Homo sapiens: one gene and its partners. The protein of the gene in region 1 interacts with the protein of each later gene in a pairwise test. Each region holds a gene or a part of one and is shown on either strand. Other genes may lie near its edges. The genes, in order: HCN1, MARK3 and FMR1.

Region 1 (3,656 bases):
AACTTTTGCAGAAGAATTGAATTTTTCTTTCCTGTCAGCAAAAGAAAGATAGGCACTTAGAAAGCCTACCAATGACTGATGACAACGCCAAGTGAGAGTGGCTCCTGCAAACAGAAGTATAGCTGTGCTTCACAGGAGAGGCTTAAAAAGCCAGTCACTCACCTTTACACACCAAATACCAATGTGGCTCCTACCTTTCACACTTCCTGTATTTCTCTGGGAACTCTTACCTTCTACTCAAGTTGAACGGCCTGTAATATGGCAAAGAGCCACTTTACAGAAGAAATGGAGATATTTAACATGAGGGCCACCTTGAAGAATGGGGGAAGAAAGGGCTTTTGGAATAGGATGGGCTTGGAATCAACATTTGATTTTAAAGTTACTTTTTCAAGAAAGGACCATGGAGACATAAGCGAGAACATTTGAACACGTACTATGTGATAAGCACTCTACAAAAGACCTTAGGTAGATGATTTTATGTAACCCGCGACCCTGTCAGATAGGTGTGTTCATAATCTCATTTTACCTGAAAGGAGATCAGGACATGAGAAGACTAAGAACAGTGCCCAGGAAAACAAAAAAAAAACATGGTTGGCAGGTAACAGGGCTGAGAAAGACCATATACACAAAAAAGTGATTGCACATCCTTGCTATGGAAAATGAACCAACTGCCCCTGTCTCATCTGTGTGCTTGCTAGAAACTCAGCCTCCTGGGCCTGACCCCACTTGCTGAATCAGATGTTGCATTTTACTAAGATCCCCAGGTGATTCCCAAATGCAAATCTGAGGAGGACTGTATCAGGTTTTGCTTTTGACCCAGTGTCTTACACCAGTCATTCTCAGTCCTAGTTGGATATTTTTCTTATCTCTGGAGCTTTAAAAAATACTAACATCCACTTGTTCCCTACCAATTAAATCTAAATAATCATACATGGGCTCTGAATTTCAGTAGTTTAAAAGCAAATTTCCCCAGGAAATTCTTTTTTTAAAATTTATTATTTATTTATTTTATTTTATTTATTTATTTTTTTGAGACGGAGTCTCGCTCTGATGCCCAGGCTGGAGTTGCAGTGGCACCATCCCAGCTCACTGCAAGCTCTGCCTCCCGGGTTCATGCCATTCTCCTGCCTTAGCCTCCTGAGTAGCTGGGACTACAGGTGCCCGCCACCGTGCCCGGTTAATTTTTTGTATTTTTAGTAGAGATGGGGTTTCACCATGTTAGCCAGGATGGTCTCCATCTCATGACCTTGTGATCCACCCGCCTCGGCCTCCCAAAGTGCTGGGATTACAGGCGTGAGCCACCACGCCCAGCTTCCCCAGGGAATTCTTAAATGCAGCCAAGACTGAGACTGACTTTATGATCTTTCCTCTTCTGAATGGTTGTTGTGAGGACCAAGGGCATAGTGCATTGCAGGCTCTCAGCTCCCTCTAAGACCTCAATAAATTTTACCTTTTCCTGCCATCATCTTCTGAGTGGTTTGCAATACAGCTTTTCCTGCCATCATCTTCTGAGTGGTTTGCAATACTAGACAGTCTCTGGCATAATAATTATTAGAATGAATAGTGGATTGGTGAAAGAAGGGGAAAGTAGTGACTTTTCTATGGCATCATTGATACACTAATCTCCAAGTGAATATGGTAACTGAAAAGTGAATCAATTTGCGATATTGCTAAATAAACTAACACATTAAAGGTAACAAAATATATTTTTGAAGATAAATATGTATTGTAATTTCATTGACTGCTAGGAATGCAATCATTTTAAATGACTGCCAAAATAGTTACCTCTCCCTACTTACAGACTGTCCTAATTTCCCAAAGAACAAAAACTCCTACATTAGTAATAAATATAAATGCTTATTTAGCATATTTGCTTAACTAACTGCAGCATACATCTATATGCAATGGCCACAAAACCGAGAAGCATAATGTTTCTTTCTGATTATGTGAACAGTCAAAATATCTTAATCTAAGTATCTTTAACCTTGGGAAAAATAATGTAACTTTTAATACACTCTTACTATGTTATAAAGATCAAAAATTCAATTGCTTAGTGCCTATTAGAAATTGCATTGCCTGTATTGATTACGAACCATTTCATGTAAATATTGTTATAAAAATTAACTGCAGGCTGGGCGCGGTGGCTCATGCCTGTAATTCCAGCACTGTGGGAGGCTGAGATGGGTGGATCATGAGGTTAGGAGGTCAAGACCGTCCTGGCCAACATGGTGAAACCCCGTCTCTACTAAAAATACAAAATATTAGCAGGGCGTGGCAGTGCACACCTGCAGTCCCAGCTACTCAGGAGGCTGAGGCAGGAGAATTGCTTGAACCTGGGAGGCGGAGGCTGCAGTGAGCCGAGATCACACCACTGCACTCCAGCCTGGGCAACAGAGCAAGATTCTGTCTTAAAAAAAAAAAAAAATTAACTGCAATAAGTTAGATGAAAGTGAAGCTGTATCAGATTAACAGAAATTATCTAGTGAAATATCCTGATTTTAATGTTTTCTCTAAGGATGTCTAGCTGGTTTAGGAAGAAACTCATTGCTTAGAAATTAGTCTCTGTCTCTAACATAAACACTCACACACTACAAAGAGGGAAGTTATTTTCCAATTAAGTAAGGATGCCTTCAGGAGTGCCTACTTCTTTTGTGGGTATTGTCTCCCTGAATGAGTAGGTCTTGTTAAATCTCTAAGATTTCAATATGAATTTCTAATACGTTTGTTATATCTAATGATGATGTCCAAATACTGCCTTTACTTCTAATCTATTTTCAGATCTCTATGCAGTCTGCTGTCCTACTAATATAGAGAGAAAGGAAGATGTGAATGTGAAGTGCAGAAAAAAAGCCAACATAACAATTTATCAATCTGAAGTCCTTACCTTTAATAAGAATGAAGCAGTTGAGGTACCTCCTTGTTTATCACAAGTGATCCCAGCCCCATCTTTTTTGAGTTCATTTATTCCTTCCTCCCTTCCTACCTCTCTTCAACAAATATTCATTGTATACTAGGTACTGTGAATGTAATGGTGAATTAAACATGAGCTCTACATTGACAAATTTAGCATCTCTAGAGCCAGTAATAAAAGCAGTGCTGTGATGGGGGAGCTTCAGAGGCTATAGGAGAATGCATCCAAGGAACTGGGCTTAGTAGGGAGTGGGAGGTCAGAGAAGGTTTCTAGAGGGAGGTGATATCTAAACAGAGAGAGGAAGGTTGAGCAGAGTCGAGCTGACCAAAAAAAAGTAGAGAAGGGGAGGGTGGCAAAGAGGGTTTAGGTGTGGAAAATGAATGCATACTACCTTACAACATAATGTTCCAGGATATCTAGGAATGTTAACAGCAAGCCAATCCAAGCTAACTTTACTATGGCAATTATGCAAATCTTCAAACTAGCATAACTAATAAGGCCTAATGGTTGTATATATATATTTTTTTATTTGGTAGCAGAAAAGACTTTAAAATATGTTGATGTTTGCGAGGTAAAGCATCTATGTAGGGCATTACTATCAAGGCTTTTTTTTTCTGCTTGAGTCTATATTACAAACATTTTATTATGTCTCTGCTGAGATTAATTTAAATGTGCAAATTTTCAATTCCTAATATAAAGATAAAATGTAAAGTTGATCCAAAAATACAAAAAAAGTGATAAAACT
Region 2 (3,656 bases), on another chromosome or scaffold:
CACGCCATTCTCCTGCCTCAGCCTCCTGAGCAGCTAGGACTACAGGCACTTGACACCAAGCTCAGCTGATTTTGTTTTTGTATTTTTAGTAGACACAGGGTTTCACCGTGTTAGCCAGGATGTTCTCGATCTCCTGACCTCGTGATCCGCCCACCTCGGCCTCCCAAAGTGCTGGGATTATGCGACCGGCCAGAAATTTCATTTTTATGTAATCAAATTTGTAAGTCTTTTATTTCATGGGTTTGGTGTTTGGGGTGACAGAAACACCTTCACCAGTCCAAGTTACAAAGCAAATAATCCCAAGGTTTCTTTCAATATTTCTGGAGTTTTATTTACATCTTTTTTTTTTTTTTTTTTGAGACGGAGTCTCGCTCTGTCGCCCAGGCTGGAGTGCAGTGGCTCGATCTCGGCTCACTGCAAGCTCCGCCTCCCGGGTTCATCCATTCTCCTGCCTCAGCCTCCTGAGTAGCTGGGACTATAGGTGCCCACCACCACGCCTGGCTAATTTTTTCTATTTTTTAGTAGAGACAGGGTTTCACCATGTTAGCCAGGATGGTCTCGATCTCCTGACCTCGTGATCCACCTGCCTCGGACTCCCAAAGTGCTGGGATTACAGGCATGAGCCACTGCGCCCAGCCCTATATTTGTATCTTAACTCCAATTAGAATTCATCCTTGTATAAGATGTGAGAAATTGATCCAAATTAATTTTTTTTCTGAGAACTACCAAATTGCCCCAATACCACTCATTGATTAGTAAACAGTGATTTTTTTTTTCATTTTTTAAAAAACAAGCTAACCCCTTGAAAATCAGATGATCACCATTCGCAGAAAAAGTGCACACATATGGGGTGTTCACATGTGGGTCTCAAACGAGGAAGGACAGCTACAGATTACATCGTAGCTTTAGAGAAGCAGGCACCCATGCAGAGGTCAGCATCCACAGGCAAGGAAAAGGGAAGGGAGAGGTGAGACGAGGCAGGAGGATGAGGTGAAAGTTAGCCCGGCTATACAGGCTTGCCTGCCTTCAGAAATTCCAAGAAAGATGAGGATTATGAAAAAGCTACTCCAATGAGGTGCTTCAGTGGAGAAAAAACACAGGGCTTGGACCAGCAGGCCTGAGCTCTGCCCCAGGTGTTTCTCATTTACTATGTAACCTTGGGAGACTTGGTAATCTCTCTTGGTCTATTTAGGGATAAAACAGAGGTTTGGTGAGTGTACAATACCATGTCTAAAGCTCTTTTTATCTCTAAAATTGAGCTGGGGGGAAAAAGGCACTAATAATCTGGATGGAATCTATGTGCTTAAGGAATAACTTACTAACATATTCCTTAGAGAAATGTGAAAATCCCATTGTCAGGTTTCTTCTAGGATTGAGGGACAAGTTAAACCAGATGGTTTCAGGGCAATATATGGGCATTTAATTGCCATGTGGTCCATAAGCACTAGAAACCCCCCTTGTTAGTGACTAACATGAACACAAAAAAGGCAGACCTAGATCAACACGTCACCTACAAATGCTAGGAGCACAAATCCTGATGTGAGAATGAGTTCTGAGCTCTCAGTTACACCCTAGAATAGCAGGCACTGTAGATGGTTTACTAGTGATATTAGTACACTGTTGCTTCAGTCTAAACCATGTAGAAAGGCAAGCAACAGAAGGAAGAGAAATGGAAATCAAGCCAAGTGTAATCATTTTTAGTACAAAATCAAAGCTGTCCACACCTAAAATGCCCTGTGCAGTCCTAAGTGTCAAATCTCAAGATGAAAGTATTAAGATGGAAAATGTCCAGAGAAGAGAAATAAAATGAGGCCGAGCGCAGTGACTCATGCCTGTAATCCGAGCACTTTGGGAGGCTGAGGTGGATGGATCACCTGAGTTCAGGAGTTCGGGACCAGCCTGGCCAAATGTGGTGAAACCCCGTCTCTACTAAAAATAAAAAAATTAGCTGGGCATGGTGATGCATGCCTGTAGTCCCAGCTACTCGGGAGGCTGAGGCAGGAGAATTGCTAGAACCCAGGAGGCGGAGGTTGCAGTGAGCCGAGATCGCGCTATTGCACTCCAGCCTGGGTGACAAGAGTGAAACTCCATCTCAAAAAAAAAAAAAAAAATAGATTTAGTTCCTGAATCCTGGAATAGTAGAATTAAAGGAAATATCTGCAATGTTAACATTTATAGTTATGGGCAAGTAAACACACACGCTAGCCTCAGGACTCTGACACACAGGCTGCCTTGAAGGCAGAGCAACTGTAGAGCCTGGTAAGCCTACCCACTGGGAGTCTTATGTCTCATAAAGGACTGGCTTCTAGGTGAAGTTTAAAAGGGAGAGTGGCTTAACCACACTAACAGCAAGAGTATGGATGAGAATGACACAGTACAACATTTAAACCAATTAAGGCAAAACTGAGGTTCCATATATTCTCCAGGGCTGTCCTGTCTATTATGAGAGTTACTGGCCACAACTGGCTATATATTACACTTAAGTACAAATTTTTTTTTTTTTTTTTGAGATGGACTCTCACTCTGTCACTAGGCTGGAGTGCAGTCACACGATCTTGGCTCACTGCAACCTCTGCCTCCCAGGTTCAAGCGATTCTCCTACCTCAGCCTCCTGAGTAGCTGGAATTACAGGCACACACCACCATGCCCAGGTAATTTTTTTATTTTTAGTAGAGATGGGGTTTCACCACGTTGGTCAGGCTAGTCTCGAACTCCTGACCTAGTGATCCACACGCCTCGGCCTCCCAAGGTGCTGGAATTACAGGCATGAGCCACCATGTCCGGCCAGGAAAATTTTAAAAGGGTAAAAATCAGCCAGGCCAATTACAGACTCACACGTGTAATCCAGCACTTTGGGAGGCCAAGGTGGGTGGATCACCTGAGGTCAGGAGTTCTAGACCAGCCTGGCCAACATGGTGAAATCCCGTCTCTACTAAAAATACAATATTGGCCAGGTGTGGTGGTGTGTGCCTATAGTCCCAGCTACTTCGGAGGCTGAGGTTGCAGTGAGCGGAGATCATGCCATTGCACTCCAGCCTGGGTAACAAGAGCAAAATTCCATCTCAAAAAATAAACAAATAAATAAGGCCAGGCGCGGTGGCTCACACCTGTAATCCCATCACTTTTGGAGGCCAAGGTGAGTGGATTGCTTGAGCTCCCAAGTTCAAGACCAGCCTAGCCAATATGGTGAAACCCTGTCTCTATTAAAAATACAAAAATTAGCCGGGTGTGGTTGTGCATGCCTGTAATCCCAGCTACTCAGGAGGCTGAGGCAGGAGAACTGCTGGGACCTGGGAGGTGGAGGTTGCAGTGAGCCAAGATCATGCCACTGCATTCCAGCCTGGGCGACAGAGCCAGATTCCATCTGAAAAATAAATAAATAAATAAATAAATAAAAATAATAAAAAATAAATAGAAATAAAAAAGGTAAAAATCATTTCCTCAGTTCAAGTACTTGATAGCCACAAGTGGCCAGTAGCTTCTTGACTGGACAGCACAGATACACAAAACTGTAATCATCTCAGAAAGTTCTACTGGACAGTGCTACTCTACAAAGTAAATCCAATGCAGAGGTGAAGAGAGTGAATAGAACTACAGACTAGCAGTTCTATTCAGTTCGGTACAGCGCCCAGTTCTAGCGCTGGGCATGGTGGCTC
Region 3 (3,656 bases), on another chromosome or scaffold:
TTAACCTAAAACTATTAATAATTTATGGACCCCTCATATACAGGGTCAAGATAATTTACATGGCTGGCCTAAATACAGTTGTCGTAATAGTTGATAAAGTGTATTCATCAGACGTCCATTTCTCTTCAGAGTTCAAGGCAGCTTGCCTCGAGATTTCATGAACAGTTTATCGTAAGAGAAGATCTGATGGGTCTAGCTATTGGTACTCATGGTGCTAATATTCAGCAAGCTAGAAAAGTACCTGGGGTCACTGCTATTGATCTAGATGAAGATACCTGCACATTTCATATTTATGGAGAGGTAAATATTTTACTGCATAGTTTTTTTTTCCCCAAACAAGTATTTCAGCTGGCTAATCTTTTGTCTTAAAATGTTTCCCCTTTTATTAGGATCAGGATGCAGTGAAAAAAGCTAGAAGCTTTCTCGAATTTGCTGAAGATGTAATACAAGTTCCAAGGAACTTAGTAGGTAAGTCAGAAGTATCTGTTGACATATAGTACAACAACTAAGTTTAGGTAAACAGTTTATTTATAGTGATAGAATTCCATTTTTTCTTACTGGAGGGTATCATTTAATTGAAACATAGTCTTTGAAATATGATCTGTTCTTTTTTTTTATTATTTAAGTTTTAGGGTACATGTGCACAATGTGCAGGTTAGTTACATATGTATACACGTGACATGCTGGTGCGCTGCACCCACTAACTTGTCATCTAGCATTAGGTATATCTCCCAACGCTATCCCTCCCCCCTCCCCCCACCCCACAACAGTCCCCAGAGTGTGATGTTCCCCTTCCTGTGTCCATGTGTTCTCATTGTTCAATCGATCTGTTCTTACAGCATACAAAAAAATATTTGTTAAGTATGATGCTCAAAGGTTACATTTTCAGAAGGTATTCAAAAGAGATTGCTTTTCTAGTTCAAACCTACTAATACCTGAAAGGATAAATCTTGCCCAGCCCTCCTGACTGTATACCTTTTATATCTTAAAATTAAATAATTTTTCAAAATGAATGATATTTGGGGACTTTATGATTTGAAATAGATTTGTATTTGATCTTTCTTATGGGACTATAAAATGATAGCATTCATTTTAATTATCTCAGGGTTGAAGATCTGAACATAGGTTACTTAAATCTAAAAAGTTCCAAAGCTAGAAGAAACTTCAGATGTCTCTGGGACTTTCTGCAAAGTCAATAGTAATTCTTCATTTTGACTTGAGTAGTGTTTTATCACCATCACCATCGTGAGTATCAGCAAATATTTAGGAGCTCTTCACCAATACTCCTAAATGCTGCAGATATCTTTAGTAGAACATATCAAAACCAGGTGCAGTTTTATCAAGAAAGCTACATATGTTTTTAATTTGTAAATAAAATTGGGACATACTGCCTATATGTTTTTTATCTTTTAAACTTGAGATCATGGCCATTTTATATAAAGTAATACATGTTCTTTGGAAACTTTAAAGAAGAAAGCAAGGACTTCTCATACATTCTGTTTACGTAGTTTCAATGCTAATTTAGCCTGCTTTTTTGTCAGCATAGACTCATAAACATCTTCCTTGTCATTAACAAACACTAGAAATGATAAATGTATCTCCCAAAGAAAATTAGCTTGAAGATAAAGTGCAAATAGTAGGAAAATAATGCAGAAGTGTTAGCTCAACTGTGTACTACAGACAACTGGAGAAATGTGTTTGTAATGTTACTAAGGTAACTTGCATACCAATTGTATGTGTACAGAATGTATGCATAGCGCAAGATAAAGTGCTAATCTCAAGACAGTTGGGTGATGAATAATATTTATTTTCTTCTTTACAGCTTGTCAAGCAATTGCATACCTTTTGTAGTTAGAAAGGTTATTGTAAATTTAGGAATTCTTATGGAAAAAGAGCTGGTAGTTGTTTTGTTTTTTTTTTTTAATAGCAAATGAGTAGAGAATTATGTGTCAGATTCATTAAAGTTGGTTTTGAAGATGGCATGATGGTAGTGGGGAAAGTGCTTGGGCATTGGAGTTGGATCTGGATTTCAGTCCTACTTTATTCTTTGGTGGCAATGTGAGCGTGGGTCACTGTCTTAGCCCCCCTGAGAATTATTTTTCTTACCTATCAAATGTGATAATAGGATCCACCTCATAGAGTTGATGTGATAATTAAATTGGAAGATATAGTAGGGGACAATTCTGGACACAGTAGGGGACTCTGTTCTTCACCTTATTCAAAACAACTCCATTTCAGTAGAACAGAATCACAGTAAATTGCTCTTTGGGATTTGGAAATAAGTGTAATGTAGAATTGGATTATTTGCTATTAAATATTAAAAGTAGATTCTACCTGTGGTTACCTGGAAAGAAGAGGATCTCAGAAATAACCAGAAAGACTGCTAAAAGTAAATCAGCCTTGTTTTTGTTTTGTTGTTTCTAGTTAGTAAAATGAGATAATTCTGTTTTAGAGATGGTCCACTGCAACACTGGGAACGTTGGAACTTTTCAGAAAGCATTTTTGTGTAAGATTCTGCAAGGCAGATCTTTAGAGAGGTGTCATAATCAGTTTTGCATGTGTTTTGTTTGAGTCAACCAACGTTATTTGTGATCTCTATTTTTCACAAACTCTCTTTGGTATGTGCACTAATTTATCTTTTCATTAAAATTGGATTCTTCACTCACTAAGAATGAATTGGTATGACTATTCAGTCAGCTATAGTTAACACACAGTACTTAGGATAATTAAGATATTATCTTAATAAAAACATCCCCAAATCTCATTTTTCATTTTGTTAACTCACTTAGATCTTTATTAAAGTCAACATTAATTCATGAAAATGTAAGTGTTGCAGTTTAAAATCAAACTGTGTGAAGACTCCAAGTAGCTTCTCTCACCTCACCTTTCCCCTTTTCGTTATAGAAGAACAGAAATAATTGACAGAAGGACCTAGACCAAGAATCCTGATTTAATGGTGTCAGATCTGTTCTATGACCAGTCAAAGAGTTTCTAGGGGTGAATGAGGCAGCCACACACAGCAAGAATGTCAAAGCTATGCTCTGATTACAAGAGCCACAAGAATTTTTTGTGAGAAGGCTTTTCACTGAGTTCTTATCTAGCATTGGCTCAAAGCAAATTTTTGCTTCCATCTTTTCCCCCAACTTTGCCTTGAGCTTTGCCTTTAAAGGCGAAAAGGAAAAAATGGAAGATGAGATGGTGAGGGCAAGCACATGGTGGATGTGGCCAATGTAAGGGTACTTAGGTACCTTGGGTGAGCCCTCAGAATCAGATGTAGTTCACATGTACATTTCCAGAATTAGTAATTCTTAAGTTTGTAATGTCTTGCTTTACCACTCGTGTCATGATGCAAATGAAAGCAGTCATTTTCCAGTAATGTATATGATTGTAAAATAAATAAGGAAATGATCAAGTACCTATTTTTTACTGGTACTTGAAATCCCAAGTTTTAATAGATGTTACTGAAAAATACTTAAATTGGTTTAAAGCTTTTTCATTGTGGTTTTGAGTTATCTTAAAGTGGGTTTTCTTAATCTTTTACTCTGTGACTAATCCCTTCACTTTTTAATACATTGCTAAAGTTTGTAAGTAATGCACAGGAGTGATACTCTGTTAACACATTGACCTTGAAGAATTTGTATTCCTTTTGGATGTAT

The links.
Region 2: the proteins of HCN1 (region 1) and MARK3 interact in binary tests that used the Homo sapiens proteins (3 or more experiments, as listed by UniProt).
Region 3: the proteins of HCN1 (region 1) and FMR1 interact in binary tests that used the Homo sapiens proteins (3 or more experiments, as listed by UniProt).

What each region holds. Positions count from the first base shown.
Region 1 is NC_000005.10:45,262,780-45,266,435, forward strand, and holds part of HCN1 (potassium/sodium hyperpolarization-activated cyclic nucleotide-gated channel 1), read right to left. Parts: intron 32-3,656; coding exon 1-31. UniProt on the Homo sapiens protein: Hyperpolarization-activated ion channel that are permeable to sodium and potassium ions. Displays lower selectivity for K(+) over Na(+) ions.
Region 2 is NC_000014.9:103,468,911-103,472,566, reverse strand, and holds part of MARK3 (MAP/microtubule affinity-regulating kinase 3), read right to left. Parts: intron 1-3,656. UniProt on the Homo sapiens protein: Serine/threonine-protein kinase. Involved in the specific phosphorylation of microtubule-associated proteins for MAP2 and MAP4. Phosphorylates the microtubule-associated protein MAPT/TAU. Phosphorylates CDC25C on 'Ser-216'.
Region 3 is NC_000023.11:147,932,296-147,935,951, forward strand, and holds part of FMR1 (fragile X messenger ribonucleoprotein 1), read left to right. Parts: intron 1-129; coding exon 130-300; intron 301-389; coding exon 390-468; intron 469-3,656.